Linked DNA regions of Homo sapiens. The protein of the gene in region 1 purifies or fractionates together with the protein of each later gene. This does not show direct contact. Each region holds a gene or a part of one and is shown in the gene's direction. Other genes may lie near its edges.

The links.
Region 2: the proteins of TMEM41B (region 1) and SLC5A6 purify together in Homo sapiens (affinity purification with mass spectrometry, with the first as the bait; one large-scale study listed by BioGRID). This does not show direct contact.
Region 3: the proteins of TMEM41B (region 1) and ATP4A purify together in Homo sapiens (affinity purification with mass spectrometry, with the first as the bait; one large-scale study listed by BioGRID). This does not show direct contact.
Region 4: the proteins of TMEM41B (region 1) and COPG2 purify together in Homo sapiens (affinity purification with mass spectrometry, with the first as the bait; one large-scale study listed by BioGRID). This does not show direct contact.

What each region holds. Positions count from the first base shown.
Region 1 is NC_000011.10:9,280,154-9,283,593, reverse strand, and holds the end of TMEM41B (transmembrane protein 41B), read left to right. Parts: coding exon 1-170; 3' UTR 171-2,940; downstream 2,941-3,440. UniProt on the Homo sapiens protein: Phospholipid scramblase involved in lipid homeostasis and membrane dynamics processes. Has phospholipid scramblase activity toward cholesterol and phosphatidylserine, as well as phosphatidylethanolamine and phosphatidylcholine.
Region 2 is NC_000002.12:27,199,087-27,202,268, reverse strand, and holds the end of SLC5A6 (sodium-dependent multivitamin transporter), read left to right. Parts: intron 1-194; coding exon 195-281; intron 282-421; coding exon 422-603; intron 604-815; coding exon 816-919; intron 920-1,155; coding exon 1,156-1,271; intron 1,272-1,689; coding exon 1,690-1,833; coding exon of another isoform or gene 1,834-1,879; 3' UTR 1,880-2,682; downstream 2,683-3,182. UniProt on the Homo sapiens protein: Sodium-dependent multivitamin transporter that mediates the electrogenic transport of pantothenate, biotin, lipoate and iodide.
Region 3 is NC_000019.10:35,549,531-35,553,658, reverse strand, and holds the end of ATP4A (potassium-transporting ATPase alpha chain 1), read left to right. Parts: intron 1-476; coding exon 477-622; intron 623-2,078; coding exon 2,079-2,212; intron 2,213-2,547; coding exon 2,548-2,649; intron 2,650-2,733; coding exon 2,734-2,825; intron 2,826-3,015; coding exon 3,016-3,044; 3' UTR 3,045-3,628; downstream 3,629-4,128. UniProt on the Homo sapiens protein: The catalytic subunit of the gastric H(+)/K(+) ATPase pump which transports H(+) ions in exchange for K(+) ions across the apical membrane of parietal cells.
Region 4 is NC_000007.14:130,508,744-130,511,748, reverse strand, and holds part of COPG2 (coatomer subunit gamma-2), read left to right. Parts: intron 1-3,005. UniProt on the Homo sapiens protein: The coatomer is a cytosolic protein complex that binds to dilysine motifs and reversibly associates with Golgi non-clathrin-coated vesicles, which further mediate biosynthetic protein transport from the ER, via the Golgi up to the trans Golgi network.

The sequences.
Region 1 (3,440 bases):
GTGTCGCACCTCCTTCTTTTGTAGCCATTAAGGCAGGAACAACACTGTATCAACTTACAACAGCAGGAGAAGCTGTTTCCTGGAACTCAATATTTATTCTGATGATCTTGGCTGTTCTTTCTATTCTGCCAGCCATCTTCCAAAAAAAACTAAAGCAGAAATTTGAGTAAAAATAATCATCTGATTTTTAGTTTTGCTGTCATCACCATCTCAGGATTAACAGGTGCATCCATTTATGTTTTAAAATCACCTCTTCAGTAATTAAACAAGGAATTTGTAAAATAAAATTTCCTATCAGATAGTTAAAGTAATACATTTAAGTGACAAGGGGAGAAGAAAGTAAAAATGGAAATTGGTATACTGTGAAAAGTGCTATCAATAGTTAAGGTAGACATCTTAGACATCTTATAAATTATTATACCAAGGGTAGCTGTAGATAATAGTAGTGTGGTAGGAAATTGTTGATCCAGCTAATTCATTCAATTTAATTGAATATTTTTTATCTTTAATAACTAAAATAGATATTTTTAAATTCTAGATTTTTTAAAGTAGTGTTGCAGGTTTTGTTAATGTTAGGCTTTTTTCAGAGCATAAACTGGAAAACTTAAAAAGAGATTTACATTTTCTTCCTCTTTTTTTTTTTTTTTTTTTTTCTGTTTTGAGACGGAGTCTAGCTCTGCCGCCCAGGCTGGAGTGCAGTGGCGCGATCTCCACTCACTGCAAGCTCCACCTCCTGGGTTCACGCCATTCTCCTGTCTCAGCCTCCTGAGTAGCTGGGACTACAGGCGCCCGCCACCATGCCCAGCTAATTTTTTTGTATTTTTAGTAGAGACGGGGTTTCACCGTGTTAGCCAGGATGGTCTCGATCTCCTGACCTCGTGATCTGCCCGCCTTGGCCTCCCAAAGTGCTGGGATTACAGGCGTGAGCCACCGCGCCTGGCCCATTTTCTTCCTCTTTTGAGGTAATGGATTTGTTTGGAGATGGCATGTTAGTAGACGACTGAATATGGAAAGGATATCAAGTTATCTATTTTGTTAATTTTATTTTTGTTTTTTATCATCTAGATTTTTATCATGGATTAGTCTGAAATTTAAAGTTCTGGCCAGTCGGTTTTCTTTCATCTTGTAGTTTTTACAGTATTTCCACTGTGCATATGCAAAATGGGTATTACATAACTGTATCATATTTGGTATTGATAATTTTTTTTTTTTTTGAGACGGAGTCTTGCTGTTGCCCAGGCTGGAGTGGAGTGCGTGGTGTGATCTCGGCTCACTGCAAACTCCGCCTCCTGGGTTCAAGCGATTCTCCTGGCCCAGCCTCCTGAGTAGCTGGGATTACAGGTGTGTGCCACCGTGCCCAGCTAATTTTTGTGTTTTTAGTAGAGACGGGGTTTCACCATGTTGGCCGGGCTGGTCTTGAACTCCTGACCTCAGGCTATATGCCCACTTCCACCTCCCAAAGTGCTGGGATTACAGGCATGAGCCACTGTGCCCAGCCTGGTATTGATAATTTATATTCAGATAATTTGTTATGGCTCTTTAATATCCCACAAGGGGCTCTAAAAAGCAAACATTCAAGAGTATGTAGTTTTTAGACATTAAGTTAATTATTTTAAACAGTGACAGCAAAACACAAGTGATTAAATATAGTTTATTTGTTCCAATGACTAAATTTTACCTCATTTATTAATCTGGTCATTAAGGAATATATTTAATAATATTATGTAATTATTCTTTTTATGCATGATACACCTAGAAAAATGCCTTTTGTTTCTATTGATGGCTTTGTTGTTTGGAGCTACTTTTGATTACTTATTGCAGTTTCCCAATTTAGTCTTTACTTTATCTAACTCACAAAGTAAAATTAACTGATCACATGGCAACTACTGTATTTAAATAGTTCTGGAAAAATGAAAGTGCTTTTTGCTGCTTGGTAAATGGGTAATGCCCTTGATTCCTTGACTGTAGGACATAGCTGATCTAAAGTACTCTGTCAGTTTTACCTTCACCCATGACTGTTATTAGTTGTCAAAGTTGAAAAGTACTTTAGCTGTGAGAAATCCTTGTATGTTTTTATTATAAGAGGTATAATCATCCTCAAAGCCTGTTTTTATTACATGATGTGGACTGATTATTTTTTCTATCACAGTGTTAACAGATGGATTTTATTGTAAATACAAAGAAAACATATTGATTATTGTAGTATTCTTATGTCACCTGGCCTTTTGCGTGAGATTATTTATTATTTCTAGCAAGGCTTTCTTCCTTTCTTATTGCCCAGAGACTGACTGATACATCTTTTGTTATTTTTACACATAAATTAAACATAGCCTTTTTGGACAAATTCACTAAATATTAATGTATAAAATGTAATTGAGTAAATTTTTATCAGAATTTTAAAAATAAAAGAGCTTAGACTCAGTAGAACTCAGTAGAAGCTTCACTATTTACTCCAGCGTGTGTAAATTGTACTTACTCTATTCTCAGAGTATATTTACTGTCCTTACCATTGATTCTTTCCCTTTGCTAATTTTTTTTTTTGTTAATGGTAGCTGCGACTTTAGGTGGGGTATATTTTCTTCTCCTAAGAGAATAGACAGTTTTTCCAGATTCATCATCATTGACTGTCAAGAAAGGACCCTTCAGCAAGGCTGTACCCTCAATGCAGTTGATGGCCTGTCTTCACGGATTTACAGACTTGGCCTGATGCCCATGTAAATTCAAGCTTTGGCTTGTGGTAACAACCACAAGAAGACAAGCATCTGTGGTGCGGAGGCAAGCAGGCTAACTAGGAGTTGACAAGCTAAGAAAGTGAAACTGTTCTTTCTTAGTTAACTGTCTTTCTCTGGAGCTCTGTTATTTTGAGTATAATATTTCCATGACACTTAGTAAATGCAAGCTAAAATGTAATAATAATAAATTGTATTGGAGAAACCTAAATGTCACATTTGGGATTTATTTCATGGAAGTACTTACATTAAAAAACTCTGGCCGAGCAAGGTGGCTCACGCCTGTAATCCCAGCACTTTGGAAGGTCGAAGCAGGTGGATCACCTGCAGTCAGGAGTTCAAGACCAGCCTGGCCATCACAGTGAAACCCCGTCTCTACTAAACATATGAAAAATTAGCCAGGTGTGGTGGCACACGCCTATAGTCCTAGCTACTTGGGAGGCTGAGGCAGAAGAATTGCTTGAACCCAGAAGGTGGAGGTTGCCATGAGATGAAATTGTGCCACTGCATTCCAGCCTGGGCAACAGAGCCAGACTCTGTCTCAAAAAACTAAAAACAAACTCTTCGTTGAATAAAAGTATATTCTTAAATTTCGATGTACATTTTCACCACTAAGAACAATGAAATGGCCGGGCACGGTAGCTCACACCTGTAATCCTAGCACTTCCAGAGGCCAAGGTGGGTGGATCACCTGAGGTCAGGAGTTCGAGA
Region 2 (3,182 bases), on another chromosome or scaffold:
CGGCCTCCCAAACTGCTGGAATTACAGGCATGAGCCACCGCTCGGCCACCTCTGGAGTTCTGATTGTTCCCACAGAAGAGACAGATCTGACAAGTGGGGCTCCAAGGTCATGGCTGGTGGCTATGCTTTATGGTGAGTCTGGGCATCTCTGAGTCTGTGTTCTTTTTCCTTTTCTTCTCACCCTGTCCTCCTAGGCAGCAATCAGCATCTTTGGCATGGTTGGGGGACCGCTGCTGGGACTCTTCTGCCTTGGAATGTTCTTTCCATGTGCTAACCCTCCTGTGAGTGATGCATCTGGATCCACAGTCATGTGTAGCAGGATGGACCTGGGGGTTGGCAGGGCTGTCACCAGGAGAGCTGAGGACTGCCGTGAGGGCTGGCAGGACTGGCCTTGTGACAGGCCTGCACTGTGTCTCGGCAGGGTGCTGTTGTGGGCCTGTTGGCTGGGCTCGTCATGGCCTTCTGGATTGGCATCGGGAGCATCGTGACCAGCATGGGCTCCAGCATGCCACCCTCTCCCTCTAATGGGTCCAGCTTCTCCCTGCCCACCAATCTAACCGTTGCCACTGTGACCACACTGATGCCCTTGACTACCTTCTCCAAGTAAGGCAGGGCTTGCTATCTTCTTGTTTTCTCAAAGCCCTCCTTTGAGGGCTTTCACAGGGGTCTTGCTAAGGGATGGGCCACCAGAGGCCCCAGGGAAATGTTGGGTATTGGGTCCCAAGACCCTGGGACCATGCGGGCAAGTAGAGATTGGTGCCCAAGGAATGCCCTGCCAACGAATTGCTAATTGTTCTCACCTCTGCTCTTCCCAGGCCCACAGGGCTGCAGCGGTTCTATTCCTTGTCTTACTTATGGTACAGTGCTCACAACTCCACCACAGTGATTGTGGTGGGCCTGATTGTCAGTCTACTCACTGGTAAGGGTGTGGGATTGCGGTGCAGATGAGCACCGAGGGGTTAACAGAGGGCCCTAAGGGACTCTAGGGAGAAAGGCTCCTGCCCTCTGAGCTCTTGGGTGTCCGTAGCTGTCAGGCTTTTCTGCTGGGATGTAGGAGGTGGGTGGGGGCTGGGGTCTCTGGGGGCCAAGGGAGGACATGGGGCCCGCTGCTGTGGATGGTTCCACCCAGAGACTCAGAAGCACATTTCCATTCAGGGAGAATGCGAGGCCGGTCCCTGAACCCTGCAACCATTTACCCAGTGTTGCCAAAGCTCCTGTCCCTCCTTCCGTTGTCCTGTCAGAAGCGGCTCCACTGCAGGAGCTACGGCCAGGTAGTACCTGCTGTCCAAGTGACCCCTCCCTGCCCTTCTCCACAGATGCCACTGACTCTTCAGGTTCCCTTCTACCCCTTTTCTCTCCCCCTGCCCCGGGTGCCTCTCTCAGGATCAGCTAAGCCTAGGCTGTCCCACACGGCTGTCTCAGGTTCTACCCACAGGACTGCACTGGCTTGGTGGGCAGAAGGATCTCAGGGCTCAGAGGAGCTCAGCCCCAGCCTGGGCCAGTCAGCTCCCCTCCCCAGCCCACCCTGTGCTCCCTGCTGTGCTATGCCCTCCCTCTTTTCCCCCTGCTCTCCCTCCCGAACCCAGCCTTGCTGGGCTCCCTTCTGGCGGGGACCTTTTTTGTGTGAATCCTGTCAAGCACCCGTCATCCGTCTTCACCAGTTCCACCCCTTTGGCTCTGTGTTTGCAGGACCACCTCGACACTGGCCTGTTTCCTGAGAAGCCGAGGAATGGTGTGCTGGGGGACAGCAGAGACAAGGAGGCCATGGCCCTGGATGGCACAGCCTATCAGGGGAGCAGCTCCACCTGCATCCTCCAGGAGACCTCCCTGTGATGTTGACTCAGGACCCCGCCTCTGTCCTCACTGTGCCAGGCCATAGCCAGAGGCCACCCTGTAGTACAGGGATGAGTCTTGGTGTGTTCTGCAGGGACAGGCCTGGATGATCTAGCTCATACCAAAGGACCTTGTTCTGAGAGGTTCTTGCCTGCAGGAGAAGCTGTCACATCTCAAGCATGTGAGGCACCGTTTTTCTCGTCGCTTGCCAATCTGTTTTTTAAAGGATCAGGCTCGTAGGGAGCAGGATCATGCCAGAAATAGGGATGGAAGTGCATCCTCTGGGAAAAAGATAATGGCTTCTGATTCAACATAGCCATAGTCCTTTGAAGTAAGTGGCTAGAAACAGCACTCTGGTTATAATTGCCCCAGGGCCTGATTCAGGACTGACTCTCCACCATAAAACTGGAAGCTGCTTCCCCTGTAGTCCCCATTTCAGTACCAGTTCTGCCAGCCACAGTGAGCCCCTATTATTACTTTCAGATTGTCTGTGACACTCAAGCCCCTCTCATTTTTATCTGTCTACCTCCATTCTGAAGAGGGAGGTTTTGGTGTCCCTGGTCCTCTGGGAATAGAAGATCCATTTGTCTTTGTGTAGAGCAAGCACGTTTTCCACCTCACTGTCTCCATCCTCCACCTCTGAGATGGACACTTAAGAGACGGGGCAAATGTGGATCCAAGAAACCAGGGCCATGACCGGGTCCACTGTGGAGCAGCCATCTATCTACCTGACTCCTGAGCCAGGCTGCCGTGGTGTCATTTCTGTCATCCGTGCTCTGTTTCCTTTTGGAGTTTCTTCTCCACATTATCTTTGTTCCTGGGGAATAAAAACTACCATTGGACCTAGAATTTGGGCTCCTGTACTGTCTTCACCTGCTCTTGTCCACCCTACTGCATCCTCTGGTGAGGATAAGGAGTCCTATCCTATGTACAGGTCACCTTCCTGTGCTGAGGAGGGGGGCTGTGGCTTCAAGTCCCTGCTGTCCCTGTGTCTGCAGGGGACAGTGTTGTGCTCACCATGGTAGAAGATGCACACCCTCTCCTAGGGCTTCTCATCCCCTGGGGCTTACTTAGTCTGTCCCTTCTCCGGCCCCACTTTCCCTTTGCCAGAACCTTTTGCTCTCAGATTTTTACTTTTGGAACTGGAGGAAGAATGTTCCCATCTGATTTTAGAAACGGAACATTCTAGCTGGACTTTTATGGTCTTGTGAAGAACACTGTGCTCACACCCTCCCACACCTGGCCTCTGCCCCTGCCTGGCCCTGTTCAGCTGCCCACATCAGCTCTGCACCAGCTCTCCGGGGTCTCTTAACAGAGACCGGGTCCCAGGCATATCTGAATTCAGCCTC
Region 3 (4,128 bases), on another chromosome or scaffold:
GGGCTGCTCGCCTGCCCCAGGCCCTGCCTTGGGCTCCGGCTGGTTCTGGACCTCAGTGTCTGCATTTGGTCCTGGGTCTCCGTTGTCCTCCGTGTCCCTCTCTGTTTGTGACAGTCTCTCTGGTTCTGCTGTGTCCCTGCTCTCTCTCTGACCTTGCTCTCCATGACCCTGTCTCTGAGTTGTTGCCTATTTCTGTCTTTTTGGGTCCTGGATGTGTCTTTTTCTCTCTGTCCCTGCCTCTGTCTCTCTGTCCCTGCTTCTCTCTCTGCCTCTGTGTCTCTGTCACTGTTTCTGTGTCCCTGGCTCTGTGTGTCCTTGACCTTGTGTATCTGTGTCCCTGTCTCTCTTCCCGTGTCCCTGTCTGTGTGTCCTTGACCTTTGTGTATCTGTGTCCCTGTCTCTCCATGTCCCTCTCTTCCTGTGTCCCTGTCTCTGTGTCCATCTCTGTCTCCCTGTGTCCCCTTGTCTCTCTCCAGGTGCCATTCAGTCCTTTGCTGGCTTCACTGACTACTTCACGGCAATGGCCCAGGAGGGCTGGTTCCCACTGCTGTGCGTGGGGCTGCGGGCGCAGTGGGAGGACCACCACCTACAAGATCTGCAGGACAGCTACGGCCAGGAGTGGGTGAGCCCTGCCCCGCCCCATCCCATCCCTGGGCTCCCTCCTTCCCAGGGCAACTTGCCTTGTGTGCGGCCCACTTGTTCCTCCACGTGTGACTGAGTTCAGCCAGAGCATCCCGGACCCCCAGACTCCCTGCCAGTTCGGGGGGGCAAGGGCCTTTCCCACCATCTCCAGCTCCAAACTCCTGCTTCTGATGATCGCAACTGCAGATGGGTGTCTCTGCCCTGACACTAATGCATCATCTCAGATGTGGAACCAGGCCCCTATTCTGCTATTTTCCCTACAGCATCACTCCCACAGGGTATTTGCACATGTGGTCTATTTTAATGAAGGTTTGGAGCACAGTGAGGCTAGATCTGGCCAGCAGATGTGTTTAGTTCACCTGTAGAGTTACATACAGACGAGGATACTTCCCTTAAACATTTACTATCATGGTTAAGGTAGACACTGAAGCCAGACTGCCTGGACTTATGGTCTGGTACTGCTTCTCACAAGCTGTGTAACCCTGGGCAGGTTGCTTTGCCTCTCTGTGCCTGTTTTCTCACCTGCAAAGTGGAGAGAATATCAAAGTCTACCTCAGTGGTTTTCAGTTTGCTCCCAGACCAGCAGCATCACCATCTCCTGGGAACATGTTTGCAGTGCAAATTCTCAGGCTCTATCCCAGCCCTCTGGGAGCCCTTGCTGGGATTCTCATGCATGTTCAAGTTCCAGCACCACTGATTTACCTCCTAGGGTTACCCAGCGGATTAAATGAGCTAATGCACGTGCAACACTCGGCACCTGGAGCAGTCAGTGATCCCCACAGTTAGCTGGTATTAGGAGTTGTGTTGCCAGGCATGGTGGCACATGCTTGTAATTCCAGCTACTTGGGAGGCTAAGGCAGGAGAATCTCCTGAACCTGGGATTCGGAAGTTGCAGTGAGCTGAGATTGCACCACTGCACTCCAGCCTGGGTGACAGAGCGAGATTCCATCTCAAAAAAAAAAGTAGCTGTGTTGAAGAAATGGGCTGCATAGTGGCTGCCCCCTTTAAATGGGGCATCTGCCCTCTTTTCCCAAAGGCCCGCGGTGACTGCCTCACCTATTTTTGCCATCTGCCTGGCCCCTGGAGTCACTGGACTTTGCAAATCCCATCTGAGGATTTCAATTCCCCTTTCCCAGGCCCTTTCTTTTGGGTGCCTCCCCCCTTTCACTATGAAAGCAGTCGGCCCAGCCTACAGTTTTCCCGGCCACTGTCATCCAAGCTCTGCTAGGCTGAGGTTTCTGGGCCCCACGTTCTGGGGTCCTGCACACCTGGCAGACCCTGCCTCTCTCCTTCCCCCCACCCCCACACTCTGATGCAAGGCAGAGAGAGCATTTAGGGGTTCACGGCCCTGGGACCCTATGCCCGGTGGGCTGCAGAGGCTCTCCGCCGGGACTCAGGCTGGACTCAGGCTGTTTCCGTTTGCCCCTGGCCTGCAGACATTCGGGCAGCGCCTGTACCAGCAGTACACCTGCTACACCGTGTTCTTCATCAGCATTGAGGTGTGCCAGATCGCCGATGTCCTCATCCGCAAGACGCGCCGTCTCTCTGCCTTCCAGCAAGGCTTCTTCAGGTGTCCCTGGCTGGCCCTCTTCCTGCCCTCCAACCCCTGGTCCCAACTCCCATCAGATCCTGACTGTGGTTTAGAACAGCCGGCAAATGCCAGCGGGTGCCAGTGCCAGATGGTGACATGCCAAAAAAACCTTTCTAACTGGCCAATAACTCCCCCCACGGCCCCCTCCACATTTCACTAAAGGGGTGGTGCTGAGAGGCCCGGGCCACTCCAGTGTTCAGTGTGTAGAACACCTCCCTGCTGCTGCTGACATCTGACCTACTTTGACCCACAGTATCCTGATTTCCATCACGTCCCCAATTCCTAATGGCCTGTCCCATTCTGCCCACCCCCAGGAATAAGATCCTGGTGATCGCCATCGTGTTCCAGGTCTGCATCGGCTGCTTCCTGTGCTACTGCCCCGGCATGCCCAACATCTTCAACTTCATGCCCATTCGGTGAGAGGCTGTGAGGGGCAAGGACAGGGAGGGGGCTGTAGGGCACAGGCCTGGGATGGCCTTCACCTTGCCATGTGCCTTCAGGTTCCAGTGGTGGCTGGTCCCCCTGCCCTACGGCATCCTCATCTTCGTCTATGATGAGATCCGGAAGCTTGGAGTTCGCTGTTGCCCAGGGAGTGAGTGTGGAGACTGGGAGCCTGGGGGCAGGGGACTGAAACGTTTGAGCAGCTGCACCCACCTTTGATCCTCAACACTTGGCCTCTAAGCCCTTGACCCTCCATAGCAACCAGCACTGACCTCTGAGCCCCTGGCCCTGCCTAAGTGGCACCCCCAGCACTGAGTCTCCTTTCTCCCTCTCTCTCCCAGGCTGGTGGGACCAGGAACTCTACTATTAGAGGGACGACTGCCTTCAAGCATCCCTGCAACTGCCACAGCAGGTGGGGGCAGGGCTCGTGGGACCCTCTGGACAGCCACCAAGATATCTGAGCAACCAAGAGTCCCAGCCCCACCAGTATCTGCTTCTGTAGCCCACGGCACCCCAAACTTGGAGGGACCTGCCCACTCCCCTCCCCCATTCCCAAGGTTCGCACCTCCTGGAGCAGCAGCGCCTGGGCAGTCCTCTGGGCTGGCCTCGGGAAAGCCGCCACCTGTGGTGGCGGTGGGGCTCTGACAGGGAGTACAGCTGACCGCTTCTGGAGGGTGTTTCTGTTCTTAGGACTCCAGTCCAGGCTGGACGGCTGCCTGAGGGCCCTTCGTTAAAGACACGCTTGTGTCCTGGGCGATGGTAATAAAACCAGCTCATGCTGACTGTGCTGTATCTGGTGCCAGGCACTGTCCTCAGCGTCTCTCATTAGTGCTTGTGATCTCCCACAGTCCTGTACATGGGGGCTGTTTATCCAGGGCTGCACCTCCAGTGCCTAGTACACAGCCTGGCACATAGTAGGTCCTCAATAAACCTGCCTTGGGGAAATGATTCCTATTCCTTTGCCCAGGGTCATGGCATCTAAACGCAAGCTGGGCCGTGGCGATAGGCACCCCCTACCACCTCTGGGCTTTCTCTGTTCTCAGCACCCTTCTCCCTCCTGGAGGCTCCCAGACACAAGGGGGCCCAAGTCATTTCCACATCAAGCATCCCCCACCCCCCAGCGGTGTCTCCTTTCTGAGCCTACCTGCTTACTCCTCTGTCCCGGCAATGGCCAGTTCCTGAACAACTCCTGGAGGTCCCCTCCTCACACCCCTCACCTGAAAGGTTAACCCCATCCCCCTACCTCCCATCTCTGCCGCTCCTTTCCCAGCCCCTCTGTTCACCTCTCTTCCTCTTTCTTATGTGGCTTTCTCTGGCTAGGGCCTGGGCTTCTCCTTCCTTGTGACCACAGCCCCCCAGTCCCCCATGGCTTCAGTTGTTTCTGCAGTGAGACCCACCTCTGTCCCCAGCTTCCCCCAGTGTTGGTGACCTACACTGGCCTCTTCATCACCCCC
Region 4 (3,005 bases), on another chromosome or scaffold:
CCATTCTAAATCTTTATTCCACACCTGCTCTGCCAGTAGGCCCTTCCTTATGTAATATTTTCTTTCCTTTGCTTCCAGTCTCTTATTTCATACTCTCTTATGACTTTTGGCCCAGCAATGCTGTCTTACCTTCCTGTTGATGTGTGTCATTCCTTAGTGACCAACTCCTTTTCATCTGAGGACAACTCTAATGTTGCTTTCCAGTACCATTCCTCCTTCCCTTTCTGAATTTGTCCTAGAGAAAAACTCCCTCCCACCATTTGTACAGCATTCCCACAGACTCAACACGATTTTCCAGGTAGGTGTGTATTGCTTATTTTGGCACTCACTGCCCAGCTTTCCTCGATGTCCTACACACTATGCTGCACCCATTGCTTCTCAGTTCAGTCCAGACCTGCATAGACTGCTGCAGTTAGCCTGTACAGATCCATCTCTTTTGCCTTCTTTCTAATCTTTTGCCCTAGTGACATACCCTTTTCTTTAATTATTATTCTAACAAAGCTTTCTGGAAATACCTCATAAGTGTCTCTTACTTTGTCATGGTCTCCCCCAGGTGGTTGAGACCTGGCAGCTCCCTCCCACCTTTCCCACTCTGCCCTTTGCCACACTGCATTTTCTGTACCCTGGCCCAACTCACATGTCCCTCTCCTGTCTTAGCTGCCAGCATCTATCTTTTCTCTAATTCGCTGGGTTCTTTTCATACAAATCTCCTTAGTGGTTGACTCTCATTTTCAGTGAATCCTCACAAGACAAGCTTAATTTCAGAGAACAGTTTTAATGCAGATCTTCAGGGCATTCTTTCCTGATTCTCTTTGGTATTTGCCTTGCTTTGTCTGTGTAACTCTCATATTTACATTATGGCAGTGCATTCAGTATTTTCTTGCCATGGAAAGGCCCCCGCATCTTGCCTCCTCGCCCCATTTCGTCATCCTCTCCAGCAGCTTCGACAGATTACTGCCTAGACTTCCTTAGATCCCTGTAACCTCTCATTGTATCAATCAAACCATTTAAGTAAAAAAATTCCCACTAAGGTTTCAGGAACATTATCTCTACTAACACCATTCCTATTTACTTCCTTAATCTCTTTCTCTGTATCAGGTCCTTATATGTAAGTGTCTTCTGTCTTTACCTCCACATAAAACTCAGCCCCTGTGCCCAGTCTGTGATCTGCCTTCATACCTGATGTTGTCTCTTTGTCCTCCTCATTTGCTGTAGCCTCTCTGCTTAATTGGAACCACACTGGGTTGCTATAATTAATGTCTCTCCTGACTCTTCATTCTAACTTGATCATGACCTTTTCCCCTACCATATTCTGTATCTCTTTCATGGTTTAAAAAAAATGCCTCACCTGACCTGTTCTGGCCTTGTGTTAACTTTCACTTCTTTCCCCTTCTCTCTGAAGAAAATCCTATCCTAATTAAACCACAGTCGTTCTTTTCTCAACCCCTAATGGCATTGAAATTGATTCTGCAGGCTTGATAGGTTCATTCTTTCCTATATGGGAAAACCCACTGCCATCGTCTGTTTTCAGCATATTCTGTTGAATCCATCTGCTCTCTGAATTCAGACCCATTCTTCATAGTCCCCACCAGTGGCTTAAATTAGGCACCTTATCTAGCTTATCTCTAACCTTTCAATCTCTTGACTGCCTCAGCTCACCAGAGCCTGTTGGAAAATCATTTGAAATACAAGGTATTTTACAATTTATTCCTAAACAAATTATCTTCTCAGCACCTAGGCATTAGCATGCCTCTTACTGTTTCCAGCTGCCCGGTGGACTTTCTGGCCTCTTTCCTTTTGCCTGTTTGTACATCTTCCTCTGCTTGCCAAAGCTCTTTTGCATCTTTTGAGAGCCAGTTAAACTATTATATCGTTTCACATTTTTTACAGTTTTCCCAGGCTATTTGTTAATCCCGCACCCTCACATGGCACTCTCTTAAAACTTAAAGGATCTATGGCATTGAGTTGTAAAGTCATAGATAGATCACACACACACACAGCCCACACACTTATTTAACTCCTAGACAGCTCCTAGAGACAGAGATCATGTCTCAGTCATCTTTTTATCCAAGTGTCTGGCACATAAGCTTATACCTTTACGTGTAATGTCAACATGTATTGACAGTCACTACATGTGTGGATGGATGAATGGATGGAATTTAAAGTCAAGACTGAGCAGATGAAAGTCTTATTACCCAATCTGTCGTATATGGTCTTCACATCTGAGCCTGTTCTTTCCTCTCCTTGCCTATCCCCCAAATAACTTTTTAACTCTCCCAATATCTAATATTTTTTGTACCTATAAGCTTTTTCCAGACCATAGACAAGATCCTAAATGCCTTTTCTTCATCCCTGCTTGCTAAATCCCCTCCTTCAAACATTTCAGAAAATACTGTCTTTACTTTTTATAAAGACTTCACTTTCCAAAAATGTACCCCCACCTCCATTTCTTATTACTTAACACCACTTGTGTGAAAACATACAACTGCCCACTTGCTTTTCCATTTAAGACACTGACTTTACCAATACTAGAAACTCATTACTGACCTACTCACTTTAGGCTGAAGGTTGACAGATAAAGCAAGTTCTCTCTGGTGATCTGTGGACCCGCCATCAGTCCACAATCTAAAGATAGTATTGAGATGCTGATGAGATTGGTCAATGTTAATCTGATGATCTGTATGCTTTTTACCACAGGTTTTTTTTTTGTTTTTTTTTTTGGTCAGGTCCTACAGCAGTGGTTCTCAAAATATTTATTTTTCAACATTTAGGCCCCTTTGATAGGCATGGCAAAAAGCCCCCAAAAGTACCTCTCTGCTGCTTTCTTCATACCAATAGAGAAACAGTCTGCCCATGTTATCATTTCTGTACTGCTGTAACCCACAGCGTGGAATAGACTTTACATTCATGCTTTGTGAGACTGCCTTCCTGACCCGCTTGTAGGCTGCTTTTGAGAACCACTACCCCAGACAACAGGGCATGTGTGTTTAACTGGAAAATGTGGA